Regions from separate parts of the Homo sapiens genome. Here region 2 is linked to region 1. The links come from fine-mapping of genetic effects on gene expression. Tissue or cell type: whole blood. Region 1 holds a variant in brackets; the other region holds the start of a gene. All regions are shown on one strand. Distances are between the middles of the regions.

Evidence for each region. PIP is the estimated chance that this variant, and not a neighbour inherited with it, causes the effect.
Region 2: it holds the start of ZSCAN29, and the variant in region 1 is fine-mapped to the expression of ZSCAN29 in whole blood (INTERVAL, PIP 0.99).

The regions. Positions count from the first base shown.
Region 1 is chr15:43,125,960-43,128,719 of GRCh38, reverse strand. No RefSeq gene overlaps it. Among named protein-coding and RNA genes, the nearest start is that of TMEM62, 6.2 kb to the left of the region's middle. The variant G/A (reference allele first, on the strand shown) is at 1,058.
Region 2 is chr15:43,369,573-43,372,202 of GRCh38, reverse strand. It overlaps ZSCAN29 (zinc finger and SCAN domain containing 29), which reads left to right and starts at 1,160. Exons shown (of 6, transcript NM_001372080.1): 1 at 1,160-1,645; 2 at 2,178-2,607. The coding sequence starts at 2,290. TUBGCP4 (tubulin gamma complex component 4) reads right to left here and starts at 1,102. Exons shown (of 18, transcript NM_014444.5): 1 at 771-1,102. The coding sequence starts at 848. RefSeq lists an enhancer at 972-1,091 and a silencer at 1,192-1,461.

The DNA.
Region 1 (2,760 bases):
CAGGGCAGTTTTTCCCCACCCTAGTAAGCCTGAGGGTACTGCAGGAGACCAGAGCGTATCTCAGTCCTTATCTCAACCACATGAGACAGACACTCCCAGAGCCTCCGTTTATAGACCGCCCCCCAGGAATGCATTCCTTTCCCAGGATATTAATATTAATATTTCTTGCTAGGAAAAGAATTTAGTGATATCGCTCCTACTTGCACATCCATTTACAGGCTCTCTGCAAGAAGAAAAATATGGCTCTTTTTGCCCGACCCCACAGGCAGTCAGACCTTATGGTTGTCTTCCCTTGTTGCCTAATCATCGCTGTTATTCTGTTCTGTTTCAAGGTGCACTGATTTCATATTTTTCAAACACACATGTTTTACAATCAATTTGTGCAGTTAACACAATTATCACAGTGGTCCTGAGGTGACGTATATCCTTAGCTTATGAAGATAACAGGATTAAGAGATTAAAGTAAAAACAGGCATAAGAAATTATAAAAGTATTATTTGGGAACTGATAAATGTCCATGAAATCTTTACAGTTTATGTTCCTCTGCCACGGCTCCAGCCGGTCCCTCCGTTTAGGGTCCCTGACTTCCCGTAACATTAGAGAAACCTCAAAGATACAGGAAATCATTTTCTAGAAATGGGGCACAACAAGAGGAAGAATCATGCTGTTAAAGTATTTGGACAAGGTCCAAAGTCACAAAAGCCAGCAGTCTCAATTTCAGACACTGTACTCCAACCAAGCCACTTCACTCATGGTGTTCAAAGTGAATAGGAACAGGATATTATTTATTTAATGATGGTTAATGATTCTCCAGGGAAATACTGGTTTGACCAGCTAATCACTTCAATTCAGCATAAAAGGTGTCTCAGTTCCTGACAGTCAAAGCAGAAAGGTAAATAGAGTTCTTCTTATAAAGAAAGCAGGCAGCAATTCACCATGAAAGCAAACTTACCTAGAACCAAAGTCAAGGGAGAATGTATCACTCAGACATTTTACAGTACAACGTACATTGTCACCAACAGCCATATATTGAATTAAGTGACTCTCATAAACATAA[G/A]ATGCAGAAATTGTCTTTTTTTGGGCGAGGGGGGGTGGTCGGGGGGCGGAGGATAAAGTTTTGCTCTTGTTGCCCAGGCTGGAGTACAATTATGGGATCTTGGCTCACTGCAACTTCCACCTCCTGGGTTCAAGTGATTCTGCTTCAGCCTCCCAAGTAGCTGGGATTACAGGAGCCCGCCACCATGCCTGACTAATTTTTAAAAATATTTTTAGTAGAGACAGGGTTTCTTCATGTTGGCTAGGCTGGTTTCAAACTCCTGACCTCAAGTGATCCACCTGCCTTGGCCTCCCAAATTGCTAGCATCACAGGCGTGAGCCACTACACCCAGCCATAATTGTCTTCAAATCACTATCTTACTGACTTTGTTAAAAATACAAAAATATAGTATTAAATCGTTTTGTGAAGTCATTTATATAGAGAGCTAAAGTAATGTAATTAAAATAGGTTGCATATATATAAAGTTTGTTTGTTTGTTTGTTTGTTTGTTTTTTGAAACAGAGTCTAGGTCTGTCTGTCGTCCAGGCTGGAGTGCAGTGGTACAATATTGGCTCCCTGCAACCTCCGCCTCCTGGGTTCCAGCAATTCTTATGCCTCAGCCTCCCAAGTAGCTGGGATTACAGACGTGGGCCACGACGTACGGCTAATTTTTGTATTTTTTAGTAGAGACGGGGTTTCACCATGTTGGCCAGGCTCGCCTCAAACTCCTGGCCTCAAGTAATCTGCCCGCCTCGGCCTCCCAAAGTGCTGGGATTAAGATTATTTTTAATTATTTTTTTAAACTGTGGTAAAATAGGCTGAGCACAGTGGCTCACCCCTGTAATCCCAACACTTTGGGAGGCCAAGGCAGGCAGATTGCTTGAGCCCAGGAGATTGAGACCAGCCTGCACAACATGGCAAAACCCTGTCTCTACTAAAAATACAAAAAATTAGCAGGGTGTGGTGGGCGCATGCCTGTAGTCTCAGCTACCTGGGAGGCTGAGGTGGGAGGATCACCTAAACCCCGGTGATCAAGGCTGCAGTGAGCCGAAATTTTGCGCCACTGCACTCCAGCCCAAGCAATAGAGTGAGACGTTGTGTAATTCAGTGCAATTAAGTACATCCATATTGTTATGCAACCATCAGCCCTTAACATAATGGCTTCAAGGTTCATCCATGTTGTAGCATGTGCCACAATTTCCTTCCGTTTAAGGCTGAATAATATTGCATTGTATGTATAGACCACATTTTGTTTATCCATTCATCTGTTGATGGATACCTGAGTTGTTTTCCTCTTTTGGCTATTGTGTATGATGCTACAATGAACACTGGTGTGTACTAGACATTTTTAAAGCTTTTTTTTTTAACTTTAATTTTAGGTTTAGGGGTACAGGTGCAGGATTGTTATTCAGGTAAACTGCATGTCACAGGGGTTTGGTGTACAGATTATTTAGTCACCCAGATAATAAGCACAGTACCCAACAGGTTATTTTTTTTTCTGATCCTCTCCCTCCTCCTACCCTCCACCCTCAAGTAGGTCCGTGTGTGTCATTTCCCTCTTTGTGTCTATGTGTTCTCGTTGTTTAGCTCGCACTTTTAAGTGAGAACATATGGTATTTGGTTTTCTGTTCCTGCATTAGTTTGCTTAGGATAATGGTCCCCAGATCCATCCATGTTGCGGCAAAGGACATAATCTCATTCTTTTTTATGGCTGTGTAGTATTA
Region 2 (2,630 bases), 240 kb before region 1:
TCATTTGTTAACTGGTAGAAACAATACCTAAGTGGACTAAATTATTGAGAGCATTAGATAACATTACTGGAAGCAGAAGCAGGTAAAAGTAGTTCAAATACTGAAGCCAGACAGACCTGGCTTCAAAACTAAGCTCTGTTAATTACTAGCTATGACCCCGATAGTTATTTAACTATTCTAAACCTAGCTTAATCTGTAAAATGGATAAGGTGGTTGTGAGGATTAAATAAGATAATGCATACGGAACATCATACATTCCTGGTTACACAAAGGCCCCCTACCAAGTGCTTTACCTAGTGCAGAAATTTTCTGGTAAAGGAGTAATGAGGGAAACACCACACGCTCTCGATTTCATTTATTTCCTTCAACAAACTTTACTGAGCGCTTACCATGTGTTTGGGAGCTGTGTATTTGGCCCAGTACTTCAAAACTCAAACAATGCACGTGTGAAAATAAATAGGAGAAAGTGCCTCCCACACTTCTATATCATTCCCCAGCAACTGTCAGACACCTGGACCTCAGGCCCTTTCCTCGCCCCGCCACAGGTGGGGCTCTTCGAGGTCTGCCCTCCGTTTTCTAGCCTAGGCCCGGCCTCTCTAGGTGTCGCATCAGCCTTGACCCTAAGGGGCTGCCCTCCAGTCACCTGTCCAGGGATACGCCCCCAGCCCTGGAAGCCCCGCTCGCTAGGTCCCTCAGCCTACTCCCCCAGGCGCTGGCTCAGGTCCCCCCTCCTGCGCTCCCTGGTTCCCGCGCTCTGCGCCGGACAGTACCTGCAGGCCACTCCGCTTGTTCCAGGTGAAAATGGACCCAGGGTACCCGCTCAGAGCCAAGAGCAGTTCGTGGATCATTCCCACGGCGGACCTCGAGTCCCTGGTTATGTCACCCCCTCCTCCAGCGCACCTCCAGGCGACCACGAGGGGAGTGCTTCCCCTTCCACACGCGCACCGGCCCCTGGGTCGGGCGGTTTGTGCCGAATCAACCCACCGAGACAATCGCTGCGGCGGAGCGGACGGGAAGCTGGGAAGGGGTCGCGGGGGAGTCCCGGAAGTTCGGCAGCTCAACGGGGTCCACCAGCTACTCCCGCCCGGGCTCTGCGGAGACTGAGTCGCGGTCGCTGCCCTCGCGCATGCGCCCTCGGTGCCCCGAGCCGCCCGCTCGGACTTCCGGTTTGGGAGCTGTACTTGGGAGGCTGGAGAGCCGGGGCCGGGGCCGGGGCCGGGGCCGGGGTCAGGGTCGGACCCCGAGTGGGTGAGGCTGGCCCGGAGGCAAGGATGCGAGGGGGTTGAGGGGCAGCTCGAGAGGGAGACGCTCCCAGGGGTGGGCTGGAGGGCGCCCTCAGGGCGCCTTAGCCGGGTCAGAGGCCTCTGGAGGGACCGCACGACGGCTCCGGGTTACCCGGCCGGAGGGAGCGGAGACAAAAGAGGCCAGAATCCCGCAGCCGCTGCTCCTTGGGCTGAGAGCTCTGCGTCCGCGAACCGGCAGCACCTGGAGCCTCTGGCCGACACCCGAGCCCGTCCTCAGGAAGCCCGTTACTACTGCTCCTCGGATTCCGTCTCTCCTGCCCAATGTGACTCTCCCCAAGCCCCCATGGTCCTCGCTTTGGAGCCAAAACCAGCTTCTCTCCTTGCGCGAGGTTTTCCGACAGGTAGCTCCCTAATCCTTGCTGAGCGGCTACTACTACGCGGGGAAAACAAAGACCCGAGATTCTGGACGTGATTTTTGCCTGGGGTGGGCTTTGGGAGTTGTGCAGCCCGAGGGGGCGGGGCGGACGCAGAAGGCCTCGGGAAGGACTGCGGAGATACTGGGGGAGATCAGCTGCGACCAGCTGGACAGAGGCTTTTTGTTGCCTTCAAGCAGGATGGTGACTTGTCTTTAGATCCTCTCGAACTCCAGCTCTCCTATATGGTTCGGACTCACTGTGCAACATTGGCCAGGGAAGTTAAATGGGATCGGATTTGGAGGAGGTGGGAGAGGGGCAGACAGTACTTTTATTCTCTGCTGCTTCCTGGGGCTGCCCTGGAAGTCAACCAGAAAAGCAGTTTTTGCAAAGTCTATTTACTGAAGATTGTGCTACCTTAGAAGGCCACTCGGAGCACATGGAAAGGCAGGCCAGCTCTGGCAAGACTTTAGACATATGAATGTATTCCTTCTGATAGTGCCATCTTTCTCTGCCCTAGGAAGAAACACCTCTTACAGTCATCTGCAGGGGATTCTCCAAGGACATGGGAAGATAGATGTAAGCCCTGGAACCCAGACTCCTAAGCGAAGGGAAGCTGCATTCTGCTATTAATGATGGCCAAATCAGCTCTAAGAGAGAATGGCACTAACTCTGAGACCTTCCGACAGCGTTTCAGGAGATTCCATTACCAGGAGGTGGCTGGGCCGCGGGAGGCTTTCAGCCAACTCTGGGAACTTTGCTGTCGGTGGCTAAGGCCGGAGGTGCGCACCAAGGAGCAGATTGTAGAACTGTTGGTGCTAGAGCAGTTCCTGACCGTCTTACCTGGGGAGATCCAGAATTGGGTACAGGAACAATGTCCAGAAAATGGAGAGGAGGCAGTGACTCTCGTGGAAGATTTAGAAAGAGAGCCTGGAAGACCTAGATCTTCGGTGAGAAGGGAGGGGGAATTCAA